Regions from separate parts of the Homo sapiens genome. Here region 1 is linked to region 2. A link means that fine-mapping ties the variant in region 2 to the expression of a gene that starts in the linked region. Tissue or cell type: whole blood. Region 2 holds a variant in brackets; the other region holds the start of a gene. All regions are shown on one strand. Distances are from middle to middle.

Region 1 (8,184 bases), 130 kb after region 2:
TTTTAGTAGAGACGGGTTTCACCATGTTGGTCAGGCTAATCTCAAACTCCTGACCTCGTGATCCACCCACCTCAGCCTCCCAAAGTGCTGGGATTACAGACATGAGCCACTGCACCCAGCCGGTTTTTTTGCTTCTTAATTAAAAAAAGAAAAACAGCAAGAATAAGCTATAAAATCTTTCTGAGTCATACCCAAAAGGATAATATATAAAGTCACCTATCCCTATTTTAACATACATTTTGTAATTTTTAAAATGTATATTTCTGTACTTTAAATACTTCCTTTAATCCTTTTAGTAATAAAATATAGCAGCTTTTAATCATGACCAGAAATGTTATATGACATTGACTGTAATACTAAAAACACAGTCAATTTACTTCACTTTAAGAAAGGACAAGACTCTTAGTAGACACATTGGCAGGCATCATAATTTTACTGAATTCACCTTATGCAATAAATTTTCTTTTAGAATCACACCAAAATTGGCTCTCTTTCTTCTTTCAATAGAAATTAAAATTTGCATGCAAATTACAGAGTTCAATCTTATTCATCAATACTAGACAGAAAAGTGTCATGTTCCTTCACACCAGTTTCATAGCTTCTCAGTCCTGATAGATATTCCTTCCCACCTGACAATAAACACAGTAAAAAGAGTACTCAAATGACCTTGAAATTGTTGTTTCACTCACCACATAAATATTTTTCTGCATCTTCTTATTCTTCAATAAATCAATTTCAAGAGCAAATTAATAAATAACAATAATTAGGATTAATATCCCTGCAAGAATATTAACTAACTGCAAATGCCTACCTATTTGCCTCTTGGTGTGTTCTCTAGCTCTTTATTATAGATATAAAAACTATCTTTGTTAACAGATGACTTTAAAGACCATTGCCACACACATAAGGATGAAAGACTTTACTCAATGGCACAAATCAGTCAGAACTAAAAATGGAACTTAGATACCAAATGCAAGTCATTGAACTTATATCCTAATAGTTTAACAAAGTGGTTTAAAAGAATACATAAAATTTACCATCTTAACCTTTTTTTTTTTTTTTGAAACAGCGTCTCACTCTGTTGCCCAGGCCGGAGGGCAGTGGTGCTACCTGGGCTCAATGCAGCCTCAAATGCCCAGGTTCAAGCAAGTCTCGTGCCTCAGCCTCCCAAGTAGCTGGGACTACAGGTGTGAACCATGGCGCCTGGCTAATTTTTTTTTTGGTAGAGATGGGGTTTCGCCATGTTGCGCAGGCTGGTCTCGAACTCCTGAGCTCAGGTGATCCATCTGCCTCAGCCTCCCAAAGTGCTGGGATTACAGGTGTCAGCCACCATGGTTGGCCCCATCTTAACCATTTTTAAGTGTTAAGTGTTAACTATATGCACATCGTTAACAGTTTATGGTAATCTTTTAACTGTAATTCCTAACTTTATTTTTTTAAATATGGTTTTGGAAATGTATCCTCTTCCTAAATGCATTAATGGTTAGCTACAGAACATTTTTTTTTTAATTTCAAGAGTGGGGACTTGAGATAAGCTATTTTGACTTTGTGATATCACAAACATATATATGTAAACAAACAGGAGTCAGATTGAATGGGCCCCACTTTACAAACATGAGACAACTTCAGCATAAGGTAGAAATGTATTATCCTAAATAAGGATCCATGTATCCATAAATCCATAAATATGCAAGAAGATAATGTTCTTCCTTATAGTAGAATAACTAAAAAATGTACGAAGGTATCATGGAAATAGAAAATCACCATTTTGCATCATAGTAATCATTTCTCAGGCAAAAATCATCAACAGATGCTAAGACTGGGTAAAAGTCTGATGAGAAATAGGACAGTCACATAGTCTCAATGAATCGCCTCACAAATTAGTTAAAAATTACAAAAGGAGGAGTATTAACTTGACAGTGGAGAAACCTGGCAAACAACACTTTGGCTAAGTAACTAAAGTCAGCATTACCACTAATGGGATAAACCAACATTAAGTACCTGCTAATATGATGCACGGGGAACACAATACCACTTTTGTGATATTCCCACCAAGAATACATGACCTGAATCTAATCATGAGGAAACACCAGACAAACCCAAATTGAGTGACAGTCTGGAAAATAGAAGGCCTGTACTCTTCAAATACACCAATGTCATCAAACCCAAAGGAAGGCTGAGGAACCTTTCTAACAGAGTAAAGAGACATGAAAACCACTTGCAGGACATCTAGAGTATCTTAGACCAGAATAAGGAAAATTGCTATAAACTGTACTAATGGGACAACTGGCAAAATTGAACATCCATAGATTAGAAAACAGTATTTTATGGTGAAACTTCCAGATATTGCCAATTACAGTGTAGTTAGAAAGTGAACCTCTTTGTTCTTTTAAAATATCACTCAATTATTTAGGAGTAAAGGGCACATTTGCAACATACTTTCAAATGGTTCAGAAAGATAGTATTATGTATATATGTGGAAAGATAAAGCAAATGTGTCAAACTGCTAACATGCTGGGAAAACCAGGGGAAGGGTTTTGAGATTTCTTTGTACTATTCTTGCAACTTTTCTATAAGTGCAACTATTTCAAAATTTAAAAAGTTAAATACAGGTATATGTCCCTATTAATATATGGGTCCACTTTAGAAGTGTTGCCACCATTTCTTTTATGCTAGAAATCCAAATCTCTCCAACATTCTTAATGACTTTAAAACAGCTATTCTAGGCTGGGCGCGGTGGCTCACGCCTGTAATCCCAGCACTTTGGGAGGCCAAGGCGGGCGGATCATGAGGTCAGGAGATCGAGACCATACCGGCTAACACAGTGAAACCCCCGTCTCTACTAAAAATACAAAAAAATTAGCGGGGCGTGGTGGCGGGTACCTGTAGTCCCAGCTACTCAGGAGGCTGAGGCAGGAGAATGGCGTGAACCCGGGAGGCGGAGCTTGCAGTGAGCTGAGATCGCGCCACTGCACTCCAGCCTGGGCGACAGAGCGAGACTCCGTCTCAAAACAAACAAACAAACAAACAAAAAAAACAGCTATTCTACTTAGCTTGACTTCAAATTTTAAAAATAAGTCAAGGTCAAAGTCTTTGGCAAACCACAATGAATATCTGGAAGTAATGTCTATACACATTAGCCAACGATGTGGATAGTAAAAATTACTTAATCATTCCATTTTTTTCTGTTAGCTCTACAAAATTACTGAGTCCTAAATTCCATCCCCCACCACAATTATAATTTCACTTAGGCCAGACTTGTAATCTGTCCACAAAACTGTTTTCCAACTGCTGCATAGAGCAGCATTCTTCTGGCTCAGGTTCCTGGAATTTCCCCAAATTCATGATTTTCACTTGTTTATGTCTAGATCCCCAACCGGGAGAAAACATGTCCTGAGGGGAAGACAGGACACTAACCTGAAAGACATGGGTTTGAACTCTTTAGGGGAGGGGAGGGTCAGAACTTTTTATTAAACAAGGAATACGCACAAGAAAAAAGATGTCTAAGGCCAGGTGCGGTAGCTCAGGCCTGTAATTCCAGGACTTTGGGAGGCCGAGGCAGGTGGATCACTTGAGGACAAGAGTTCGAGACCAGCCTGGGTAACATGGGGAAACCCCGTCTCTACAAAAAAAAAAAAAAAAAAAAAAAAAAAATTAGCCAGGCGTGATGATGCGCACCTGTGATCCCAGCTTCTCGGGAAGCTGAGGTGGGAGAATCGCTTGAACCTGGGAGGCGACGGTTGCAGTGAGCCCATATCGTGCCACTGCACTCCACTCCAGCATGGGAAACAGAGCCAGACCTTGTCTCTTAAACAAACAAACAAACAAACAAACAAAAGTCTAATGTCTACAGACATCTAGAAAGAGCTCCAGCTATGCCTCAGAGAGAAAAATCCCAGGAGTGGATGGGAAAATATCCATGCCCAGAAAAAAAAAAAAAAAAAAAAAAAGGAGAAAAGGTACAAACCATCAGGTAAGTTTCTGACCCAAGTTTACCAATCTTGTTTCTCATTTCACCTAAATGTAAACTAGGAAAACTACACAATCCACAATATAAATTATTGTTACTTGACTTGTGACTGGTCAGTCTCCAAATACTCCTTTCCCACAGCATGAGAAGGAAAATATGTTTCCTATCAGTCCTTCTCACAACAGAAGAGAGAAATGTGGTTTGTCACTAATGAAACACTGAAAATGTACCACTGTCACCAGTTAACCTAATCTACAATCTGCTGGTTAAAAGCAGGTCAGCCTGAAGCATATAAAAAGACGTCTGCCTTTCAAAACTGGCTAAAGCTGTCAAATCGGATCGCAGGTTTTACAAATACAATCACCTAAATTCAGCCCTGCTCCATAAACCAGAAAGCAGAACCAGCTTCCATAACTGGCCACGCAGCCTCCCACCCCACCCCACCCCCGCCCTTGACAGTGAGTGGGTCGGAGTAGCCACGATGCGCCCAAAGTGTTTAATTCTTCCAGAAATGCCGGCCTCCGGGAGGAATCTAGGTTTGAAACTTTCCCCAACAGGGCATTCCCCGGTGACATTTTGCTCCCTCGGGTGTGGAGCAAGTGTGGAGGACCTGGCGGCCCGAAAGTGCCCAGAGTGACCGACAAAGGTGGGAAACGGCAGGGCAGAGAGTGGGCCAGAAGAAGGGGCAGCAGACGCGCAAATTCACATCATTCGGGGTCACCCTGACCCCAAACCTCTGACTTCTGCCCCGAACTGGCGTTCCGCAGGGAGTCCAGGGTAGGCCCCAGAACTTTGGACCCAAGTCCCAGGCGGGGACCGGCCTGCGGGCGCGAGGGCTGGTCGAATCTGAGGGGGCCAGTGATCTTTGCAAGACCCCATAGGGACGGCGGGTTGACGGGGGGCCGTCCCTGGGTTCGCCTTCCCAGTCCGGACTCACCGCCCGCCGGAGCTGCCCCGGAGCCGCCGCTCGGAACATGGTCTCCGCTTCCGCCGCAACCTCGGCCTTACAGCAGCCCCGTGCCCGGCCAACTGGCGCCGCCTCAGCCAGTCACCTAATGCTCGCGAGACGCGCGAACGAGATAAGACGCCCTAGGCCGGGAGCACGAGCCCGCGGTTTCCGCCTGCCCATTGGGCGGCTGCGCAGCCAATAGACGGCGGGAAGTTAGGGGCTAGACTGGGAAGTGGGGCAAAGGTGAGGCTATTCCCCGGGGACCTTCGAGTAAGCCCGGGCCGCGGAGCGGCAGAGACAAAGCTGGCCACCCGCTGATGACCGAGCTCAGACTGTACTGTCTCACAGCCCCGCAATGGTCAGCACTGCTAGAGTGAACTTCAAAACTGAGCTGACCTCGGGGTAAGGTACGAGTGGAGCCTTGCCAATTCCAATTAGATACCTTTCCTATATGCCCCTATTTCCCCCTGTATTTCCCCATGGTAGCAATTGTCACATGGGTTGTAATAACCTAAGTACTTGTCTGTGTCACCCATCTGACTGAAGATCTGTAAGGGCAGAAAGTATGCCCTTTTTTTTTTTTTTTTTTTTGAGAGAGAGAGAGTCTCCCTCTGTCACCCTGGCTGGAGTGCAGTGGCGCGAGCTCAGCTCACTGAAAGCTCCGCCTCCCGGGTTCACTCCATTCTTCTGCCTCAGCCTCCCGAGTAGCTGGGACTACAGGCGCCCGCCACCACGCCCAGCTAATTTTTTTGTATTTTTAGTAGAGACGGGGTTTCACAGTGTTAGGCAGGATGGTCTCGATCTCCTGACCTCGTGATCCGCCCGCCTCGGACTCCCAAAGTGCTGGGATTACAGGCGTGAGCCACCGCGCCCGGCCAGTATGCCCTACTTTTAAATTTTGTGTCTACCTGCAACACCTAGCACAATGCCTGGTCCATACTAGGCATTCAATCAGTATGTGTTGAATGAATAAGCAAATGAATAAATGACTGCTAATGAGTCTGGACTTTAACACGAAATTTTTAAGAGGGAAGTGGTATGTTCAGAAATTGTCTCAATTCCCAATTCAGCAACAACCTACCTTTCCAATGTTATCTAGTCTATCAACAAATCCCGTTGACTCTACCTTCAAAAGATAACCAGAATCCAGCAATATCCTCCAACACCCCTTTGCTCCTCTGCTGGTATCACCTTCACTCAGGACCCTGTCCTCTCTCGCCTGGATCATTGCAAAGCCTCCTAACTGGTCTTTCTGTTTCTGCCCATGTTTCCAGAAGCCTCTTCTCCAAACTGATGGACTGATCATGACCTCTGCTCAAAGCCCTATGGTGGCTCCCTCTCCTCCCACTGCCCTCTTCTCTCACTGTTCCCCAGATACATAGGCCTTCTTGAGCACACAAGCCTGCTCCTCTCAGAGTTTTGCACTCTGGCTCTTCCCTCTGCCTGAAATGGCCTTCTCTTGTTACCCGCGTGGCGTACTTCCTCACTTCATTCAGGTCTCTGCTCAAAAAACACATTTGCAGAAAGGCCGGCCTTAGCCTCTCCACCTAAAATAGCACCCATGCCACTCCCAGACGCCCTATCACCTTGTTTGATTTTTTTTCTTGGCATTTATCACTGCCTAACAGGATGCACATGTTTGTTTATTGCTGATCTCACTGCATTGGAGTGTAAATTCCCTGAAGCAAGAGCTTTGTCTGAACTAACAAGCACTCTAAGGGCCTTGCGCTTTTGCTCTTCCCTCTGTCTGAAATTCCCTTCCCCATCTGACAGCCCTCTTTAAAACCCAGATCAAGTGACAATTCTTTTGTTCTGTTTAAGACAAGGTCTCACTCTGTTTCCCAGGCTGGAGTGCGGTGGTGCCATCACAGCTCACTGCAGTCTCGAACTCCTGGGATCAAGCAATCTTCCTGCCTCAGCCTCCCAAGTAGCTGGGACTACAGTCATGTGCCACCATGCCCAGCTATTTTTTTTTGTAGGGGCAGGGTTACCCAGGGCTGGTCTCGAACTCCTGGCCTCAAGTGATCTTCCCACCTTGGCCTCTCAAAGTACTGGGATTACAGACATGAGCCACCACGCCTGGCCCAAGTGACATTTCTTTTGTAAGCTCTTTCTCAATTCTGCAGGATGAATTAATCCTTTCCTCTTCTTCACTCTTGTAGCTCTATGAACAAGGAGGTGAGGACCCATCTTAAACTTAAGTTGCACCCACTTCGAACACGTCTGAACTCATGTTGCCGACAGAGCTGTGGACCCCTGTCCCCCAGTCAATCTGCCTGTGGGAGGGGCAATTTAGTATTCCATGTCTCACTGCATTTACCTCCTAACCAGTCCCACACTGGACTAGAATCTGAGACCTATGGGAGTGGAAGGAAGAGGGAAGGGTACTTTTAGTAAAAACAGAAAAGGATATTTTACTAAAAACCATATAAAAAACTGGGATACAAACTAACCTCCTTCCCTACCTCCCCACCCATGACAAAGCGAAATACAAGGGGAGAGCGGCTGCCCCGCCCTGCCCCCACTGGGCAGATTCAACAGCTCCCAGGCTTGGGCAAATCAGCAGCAGCTGTTCACCCCAGAGTCTCGTTGCCCCTGGGGGTTCCTGGTGGAGCAGTTCAGAGCAGAGGGAGAGGCTAAAAATGGGCAAAGTCTGTGACACCTGACCAGACCTGTTCTGATCACACATGAAACGCCCCCTGAGGCTTTGGGATGTATCAGGGTTCTACAATCACAACCAGGTTATGTACCACAGAAATGTGTGTGCTAAGACATTTCTATTAGAAGATTTTCCCTAGAGGCATATGACTTTCCCACTCCATTAGGAGCCGCTTTGGTGGCAGGACCTATGGTTTCCTTTTATTTACTTATTTTTATTTTATTTATTTTGGAGACGGAGTCTCACTCTGTCACCCAGGCTGGAGTGCAGTGGCGCGATCTCGGCTCACTGCAACCTCCACCTCCCCTCAGTTTCAATGGATTCTCTTGCCTTAGGCTCCCAAGTAGCTGGAATTACAGGTGCCCACCACCATGCCCAGCTAATTTTTGTATTTTTAGTAGAGATGGGGTTTCACCATGTTGGTCAGGCTGGTCTCAAAGCCCTGACCTCAGGTGATCTGCCTGCCGTGGCCTCCCAAAGTGCTGGGATTACAGGCGTGAGCCACCGTGTCCAGCCTATTTATTTGCTTCTTATTTTTAGATGTTCAGCAAACATTTGTAGAAATATGTGTCCAATGGGCTAGGTGCAATGGCTCACACCTGTAAT
Region 2 (8,184 bases):
TCACTGTACCTGTTGGCTCCTCGACCAACCCCAGCCTCTCACAGTTTTGGGGTGGGGGACACGTCTGTGGAATGTCACAACAAAGTGATCCTGGGAAATGTCCCCACAGGAACACGCACACAGTGTCTTCAGAATCATCCCCTCGGAATGTCTGTCAGGAAACCAATCTTTTTATCTGCTTTGGGAACACTATGACCTTTTGTTTCGCACAGAATGCCTATGCGTGACAAGAGGGGTCATCAGGGGACATGGCCCTCAGGGGCACGTTGTCCAAGGTGTCCCGAGAGCAGGGCAGGCTATGGAATCCTAGACTAGGAAGAGAAGCATTCCCTTCCTGAGGAGCTGGCATCAGCTTCATTCATTCTCTTGCCATATCGCGTGGTTAGCCAGCACCGTCCAGAGCTGCTCTGTGCTGGGCTTGTGCCGGGCATGTGGATGCCGCCTAGGACAGGGTGTGACCCTCGTCCTCACGGGGCTCTGGGTGACTCAGGGGGTTTGGCAGCCCATAAATAGGCAGTGGAAATCTGGTGCAATGCCTGTATCACATGGGCACGTCCCGGGCTCTGCAGGCCAGGATGGGGAAGGCTTTCCAGAGGAGCTGATGTGGAGCAGAGCCCTGGGGAGAAGGCTGCCAGGCAGAGGGAACAGTGTGGGGTGTGCGAGTGGGTGCAGTGCCCCCGGGGTTCGGGGCCATTTAGAGGGTGAGCAGAGGGAGGCAGTAGGATTGGGGACAGGCTTGGGAAGGGGCTCTGTGGCTGACCAGAGAGTTTGGGCTTTATCCTGCTGGGACAGAGGAAGCCTGGAGGATTAAAAGCAGGACTGGGGGATCTGCTCAGATGTGAGTTGTTGATGGAGCCTTCTGGCTGCCGTTGGAGGCTGGATGGAGAGGGCAGGGTGGAGACAGGAAGACTGGGGACAGAGGCTGGAGAAGAAGGTGAGAGAAGCTGGGCTTTAGGCAGAGGGGGCTGCAGGGAAGTGGGGAAAGTAAAGTGCAGGGTGTCATCCAGAAAGCGACTGGAAGCCGATCAGGCAGTTCTCATTCTGCTGTTGAACAGGAAAACAAATGCTCTACTTCACTGCAGTTGGCAACGTGAAAGACACGGACACAGGGCTGCATCCGCCCCTCATAAATTCGCAGCCTCCCAGCCCAGCAGGGAACGCGCTGACCCTGCCGCACACCTCACCTCAGCCACACATGCGCCACGTGGCCAGGAGAAAATCCTAACGGCAACCCCACCTCCCAGGGTTTCCACCATGACCTCTGTCCGGAGCCCCCCGGGGACCCCAGGTTCCTGCCGTCCTGGTTCAAGTCACCTCCACATGTGGCCTCCTTCCCGGGGGTCTCAGCCGGAGGGAGACTCCCTTGCATTCTGCACAGGAAAGAGCCAATAAATAAAGACAGATTCCCTCTAGGTAGCGACATCTGGAAAAGAGATGAACAGAAACGAACCATTTTAATTTAAAAAACACCTGAAGCCTGTCATCTTAGTTAAGACAGCAGAAAGGGCCAGACAGGCTGGACTCCCAGTGGGGCCACCGGGGAGGGTGGGGGCTGCCTGGCCAGAGGGACCAGGAGGGCAGCTCTCCTGGAGTCTGTGGTGCCCACTCCACAGAGCGAAGCAGACAGATGCCTCACTTGCAGCTGTATTTTCAGACCTGGTTTGAGACTTGACTGGGTAACAGATACCCTGGAGGAAATGAGACTGTGGGCCCTGGAATGTCAGAGATGGCTAGACCCTTGGAGACAGCAGCCCATGGAATGGTTGAGAATAGACTTGGTTCTAAATAGACTTTGAGCTGGCTTCGAACCCAGGTGTGTCTCTCTTTAGAACACTTACTGGCCTTGTGGCTTTGGGCATTAATGGGACATCTATGGGCCTTGGTTTTCCTAATCTGAAAAATGGGTGTAGTAATAGAATCCTCGAAGGATGGTGATGAGATCGTAGCCTAAAGCCTGACACATGATGGGTAGCAACTAATGGGTGTGGACCCCGAAGTCCACCAGCCCCACCACACCTGCCCCACACACCCATTTTACAAATAAGAAAACTGAGCAGTGGCAGCTCGCCTTGGGGGCACACAGCTAGTCCAGGGGGGCATAGAACCAGGTGTCCTAACTGTGAACACTGTTCTTTTCCAGCCCATCACGTTGAGCCTCCTTTTTCCTACTCATGGCACTTAGCACTCAGCAAAAACATTGATCAGATTATGCATGGGGTATTTTATACTGCAGGCACAGACCTGGCTCCCCTCAGCTGTCTCAATGGCAGCCCCCAACCCCGTTCCAGGACAGTCTAGTATTCCTTGTGACAAACTCTTGCTGTCTCCTTGCTGGAATTCTCAGAGTATAATGAAGACATTTCCAAACTGAATTCACATATGCTGCCTGAAAAATTGACATTTACCAATGAAATGTGTTAGGGTCCCAGTTTAAATACAACACCTGGCCTGGCGCGATGGCTCACACCTGTAATCCCAGTGCTCTGGAAGGCTGAGGCAGGAGGACTGCTTGAGGCCAGAAGTTTGAGGCTGCAGTGAGCTGTAATGACACCACTGCACTCCAGCCTGGGCCACAGAGCAAGACTGTCTCTAAAACAAAACAAAACAAAACAAAACAAAACGCTTTTCACTCCCTTGCTCTCTTGCTGGGGTGTGTTTGTACAACTATTTCAACTATTTGCCACAACTTCACCCAGCTCTTTTTAAAAAAATAAACTTTATTTTTTAGAACAGTTTTATATTGACCAAAAAATAGTGAAGCAGGTGCAGAGTTCCCTGTATCCCTTGTGCCTGGCTGCCCATCATTAACATCATACACTAGTATCATTTGTTACAATGAACAAACCCACATTGATACGGTACTCAGGTTTTCTTAGTATTTAATCTGTTATGTCCTCTGTTTGCTCCACGTCGCATTCAGTAGGCTTAGGCTCCTCCTGGCTGTGGCAATTTCTCAGACTTTGTTTCTGATGACCTGAAGGGTTTTGGGGAGCACTGGTCGGGTGTTTTTGTTTTACAGGATGCCCCTCTGTTGGGATTCGTCTGATGTTTTTCCCAGGGTAAGCCTGGGGTTGTGGGTTTTGGGAGGAAGACTGCAGAAGGAAAGTGCCATTCTTATTGTCTCACATCAAGAGGACACACTGGCCACGTGACTTCTCACTGTGATGCGGCCTGGATCACCCGGCTGGGGCAGCGTGGGTCAGGTGTCTCCACTGCACAGTTACTCTCTGTTTCTTCATCTTAAGCTTTTTTTTTTTTTTTTTTTTTTTTGGAACAGAGTCTCACTCTGTCACCCAGGCTGGAGTGTAGTGGCGCCATCTTGGCTCACTGCAACCTCCACCTCCTGGGTTCAAGAGATTCTCCTGCCTCAGCTTCCCGGGTAGCTGGGATTACAGGCACCTGCCACCATGCCCAGCTAATTTTTGTATTTTTAGTAGAGACGGGGTTTCACCATGTTGACCAGGCTGGTCTCAAACTCCTGACCTCAGGTGATCCACCCGCCTCACCCTCCCAAAGTGCTGTGATTACAGGCATGAGCCACCGCACCCAGCCCATCTTAACTTTTTAAGAAAGATTACATTGCTTCTTACCGTGACCCTGTGGAGACTCTCAGGTGAGCCTGTTGGCCAGTTTCTTGCATGAATATCTGATTCATTTCACCTTCTGTGCTACATGGCAGTTCATTTCTTGTCACAGGCCCACATGCAAGGTGCTCCAGAATCACCTTATATAACAGATGAAAGGTCCCTGGGGAGGGCAGCTGGCCCAATCCAGGATTTGGCAGATGGGGCATCTGAGGCTCAGAGAAAGGGAGAGGTGGGCCCAACGTGGCACAGCAGTTATGAGGCCAGGACGAAAACAGGTCTCTTGTTGCTCATTCCAGTGCCTTCCCTCCTGGATCACACTGGCCCTCTGGCTTTGACAGGGAAACAGGCTTCACTGCTTCCCTCATTCCTATGATCTCTTCTGGTTGTGGACACACCTCATGCTTAACAGATTCCTACTTGGGGAGGGGTGCCTAGAGGATCCCGGGAGGGGAGGAGGTCTCTCTGCTGGTCAGTCATACCATTCCAAAGCCCTGGCCATGCCTTCTGCAGTCCCTTCCAGACTCCCCGCTGCTGTGATAGAAGCACATGGCTTCTGACCCCTGAATTCAGCAATTCCTCAATTCCTTAGGTGGAAGTTCTTTTCCATTCTTTTTGTTTGTTTGTTTGTTTTTGGTGAGGGGTGGATCTTGGCCAGAATTTCATGACGAGTTAGGCTCGCTGGTACACAGATGGAGTCCAAAGTCACGATGCTAGAGGCTGCCCTTCAGAGAGACGGTGTGGATGCCTTGTCTCTCTCTCTGTCTTGGCTGCTTCAGAAACCAAAGCCATTTTAGATGCAGCAGTTAAATCAATGCAACGATATACTCTTCTGACTCATCTCACGAAACCACCTCTGAGGTTTTATGTACCTCCATGCGTGGGATCTCGCTCTAGTTCCGAAACACATTCTGAAGTCTCCGTTACACCCGCTCTTTCATGTTTAAGCCTGGTAACAGCTTTTGGTACAAAATAGTATGATCTGACCTGGCCCACTGTGGAAGTTAGTTTCTCTTCTCTGACGTTCTGCTTCCTCAGCACCATTCACCCTGAGATCATTGGCAAAATACTGAGGGATATGAGGCTCAATCCGGGGTGACTCAAGGTCCAGCCTCCAAGGAGACCAGTGGGACCTGTGAGCCCCTTAGGACATCCTTAGACCTTGGGAAAGGTGAGTCCCTTGTCGGGGAGCTTGGAGGAGTGGAAAGAATCCTCTTATTCGGGGAGCCAGCAAGCCAGATTCAAACCTCAGCCCCACCAGTGACCAGTCATCTTCCCTTTAACCCCTGAGCCTCAGCTTCTCATTGGGGAAATTGGAGGTAACAAGGCCTACATCGTGTGGATGCCATATGCATCAAATTAAATCTGGCCTGCTGGAGGCTTTCAGTAAGGGTTAAAAAAAAGAGAGAGGTCGGGTGCGGTGGCTCACACCTGTAATCCTAGCACTTTGGGAGGCCGAGGCGGGCAGATCACGAGGTCAGGAGGTCGAGACCATCCTGGCTAACACGGTGAAACCCCGTCTCTACTAAAAAAAAATATATATAAAAAATTAGCC[C/G]GGTGTGGTGGCGGGTGCCTGTGGTCCCAGCTACTCAGGAGGCTGAGGCAGGAGAATGGCATGAACCTGGGAGGCAGAGCTTAAAGTGAGCCGAGATCATGCCACTGCACTCCAGCCTGGGTGACAGAGCGAGACTCAGTCACAAAAAAACAAAACAAAACAAAACAAAAAAAACTACTAAATGTATCTATATGATGGTTGCTCATTCACAAATGCACTGTCATGTTTTAGCTCATTTTTCCTTTGCTGGTGAAAGTTGGCAGGCTGGGTACTATTAATCCCTTCACATGGAAAGACTGAGGCTCAGAGAGGCTATTCTTTGGCCAGATCCTGTAGTTTTTCATGGAGGGACTAGGAAAGAAACCCAGGGCTTCAGTGTCCATTTCCCTGCGCCAGAAAGAGGCATCTGCCTGAGTCACTGATAGTTAGGGTGAGTAACACCAGTTGTTGCATCCAGCAAATCCAGAAATCTGAGTCCTGACACAGGAGGAGTACATTTGTCACTCTCATCATACTCCAATGCAGGTTGCAATGGGGCAGGGTGGAGGGACCCTCTGTTCCACACAAGTCACTCAGGCCTCCAGGCTGCTTCCATTTTGTGGCTTTTTTTTTTTTTTTTTTTTTTTTTTTTTTGAGATGGAGTCTCGCTCTGTGGCCCAGGCTGGAGTGCAGTGACATGATCTCGGCTCACTGCAACCTCTGCCTCCTGGGTTCAAGCGATTCTCCTGCCTCAACCTCCCGAGTAGCTGGGATTACAGGCATGTGTCACCACCCCTGGCTAATTTTTGTATTTTTAGTAGAGATGGGGTTTCACCATGTTGGCCAGGCTGGTCTCGAACTCCTGACCTCAAGTGATCCACCCACCTCGGCCTCCCAAAGTGCAGGGATTACAGGTGGGAGCCACCAAGCCCGGCCGATCCTTCTTCCTCCAAGTCCTCGGAGTCTTCTCCAGTCAGTGGATAGGAAAGTGAGGCTGGGGAATTGGGCACAGCAGGTTTTTATTGGCCAGGACTGAAAATGGTGATATTGCTCTGCCCCCGTTTTATTGGCAAGAGTCAGTTGCACAGTACCAACTAGGGGCACCAGATGCTGTCAGAAGTGGTCTTTGTGCCCAAGAAGAAAACAGTCGCCTGCACAGTCACCCAACCCATAAAACAAGGCCAATGGGCTCACAACATTCCCTACCCTTTCCCCGGTTCCACCACAGCAGGCGGCACAGCCACACTTATCAAAGTCCTTCCTGGGGGAATGCCATGCCTCCCTGGCCTGTTTTCCTGAAGAAACAAGATGATAATCTTGACCCTGCAAGCTGTAGGCATTTCTGATGGAGGAAGATGTGAGGAGAGGAAGCTGTCACGCCCCCCCTCCATCCCCTTCGCTGTCTTTCACGTGGAGGAACCGGAGCAGACGTGGGAGGTGGTGGGTGGTCTGATTGGGAGCCAGGGCCCATCTCCCCATCCAGGCCTCTCGCTGGACCCCATTGTCCCCTGGTTTTCTGGACCCCTGAGAGAATGCCAACGGCTCTGCGTAGGTCACTCGCCTTTGAGGCTGGGCTAGCAGCTCAGAAAAGGGGCCAAAGGGCAGGAATAGCAGGAATAAAGCCGTGGTTCCATGCTGGCTCCAGGGACGGGGCTTGAGGCTGGCTCATTCCAGAGAGCTCCTTCTTTTCCTACAGAGGCCACAAGTTCCCAGCTCAGCACAATAGCCTTTGTTACCTGGATTATTCAGGATCTCCACTGTGGGAAGTGAAATTTTTTTTAAGATGGGAAGTGATTTGTAAAACAGCCGATAGCTTTAATGACAAGCCTATTTAGCTGATAAAATCAGCCATCAGAGGAATAACTTATGTTATCCTTTTGCCATAATTTAAATTTATGGCCAACTACCAGTCATCTTCACAGTGGATGGAAAGGGGCCAAGGTCGATCTCAGCTTTACTCTGCTCCTAAATCATTAGTTTGCAACTGTCTCCTGATTTTTATTGTTACCAACAACGGTGAAACTAATGGAAATAAACATTGGATGCTATCCCAACAGCAGATGGGTTTGAAGGCAGGGCAGCCTGTGCAGACAGCACTAATAGGATGGAGCAGAATTACTGCTATTGCATTAGATACCATCGAGCTTCTGGCCAAAGTGTGCATTGATCAGGACAAGGCCCGTGTCAATTGGACTCCACAACCGGACCATTAAAGGCGGAGAAGCGCTGGGTGTGCCCGTCCTGCCGCCCCGGTGGGTCTGACCCCTCCTGGGCTTGCATTAAAAGCCCGGCCCCGATGGAAGGGGCCTGACTCACTCCAGTAATGCATACTGCGGGCTTCCCTGTGGATCCCAGATGATCTGGGCAGGTTATCTGATTAGAAATACTTAGCTAATGATGTGCACTAAATGGGGCTGTGACTGCACTTTAATTCTTCCCAAGCCTAGGGATGGTCTTTTTTTCCCACCGGGCCCATTTGCCAATGGAAGATTTGCTTCATCGGAGCCACTGTGCACCTTCTTTTCCTAAGGCACAGGCCCGTGTGAGCCCTGGGGAGCCCCGTCCTGTTGTGTTTCTTCCTGTTTTCAGCAGTTTGACTGCAAGGTGCTTCTGTGTGGATTTCTGTGGGGTTTTTTGGTATTTATTCTGCTTAGGAGTTTCTTAAATTTGTGGATTGATGTTTTTTATTAGATTTGGGAAGTTCTTGGCCATGGTTTCTTTATTCATTGCACCTGTCTCATTCGTCTCCTCTTGGAGCTCCAGTTGTACCTGAGGCCATTTGATTATGTCTCACGTTTCTCTTAGATCCTACTCTGCTCCACTATTCATTCTCTCTCTCTCTCCCTGTCTCCTTTTTTAATGGCTGTAAGTTTTGATGTTTTTCTATAGACCTGTCTTCAACAACCCTACTACGTCCAATCTCCTGTTAAACCCATCCAACCAACTACTCAATTTCAGATACTGTATATCAAGATTCTAAAAGTTTGATTTGATTCTTTTTATAGAGTCTAACTCTCTGCTGAAACACTACGCTCATTTTGTCTGTCTTTCTCCCCTATTTTTGTT

The links. PIP is the estimated chance that this variant, and not a neighbour inherited with it, causes the effect.
Region 1: ETFA starts here. The variant in region 2 is fine-mapped to the expression of ETFA in whole blood (INTERVAL, PIP 0.94).

Annotation. Positions count from the first base shown.
Region 1 is chr15:76,306,443-76,314,626 of GRCh38, forward strand. ETFA (electron transfer flavoprotein subunit alpha) reads right to left here and starts at 5,027. Exons shown (of 12, transcript NM_000126.4): 1 at 4,908-5,027. The coding sequence starts at 4,946. RefSeq lists enhancers at 4,279-4,779, 4,780-5,280, 5,490-5,539, 5,600-5,649 and a cis regulatory region at 7,211-7,632.
Region 2 is chr15:76,177,362-76,185,545 of GRCh38, forward strand. All of the region lies in intron 8 of TMEM266 (transmembrane protein 266), which reads left to right. It overlaps LOC101929439 (a long non-coding RNA gene), which reads right to left and starts at 4,125. Exons shown (of 3, transcript NR_120360.1): 1 at 3,591-4,125; 2 at 1,185-1,423. RefSeq lists enhancers at 4,216-4,265, 4,476-4,525. The variant C/G (reference allele first, on the strand shown) is at 5,140.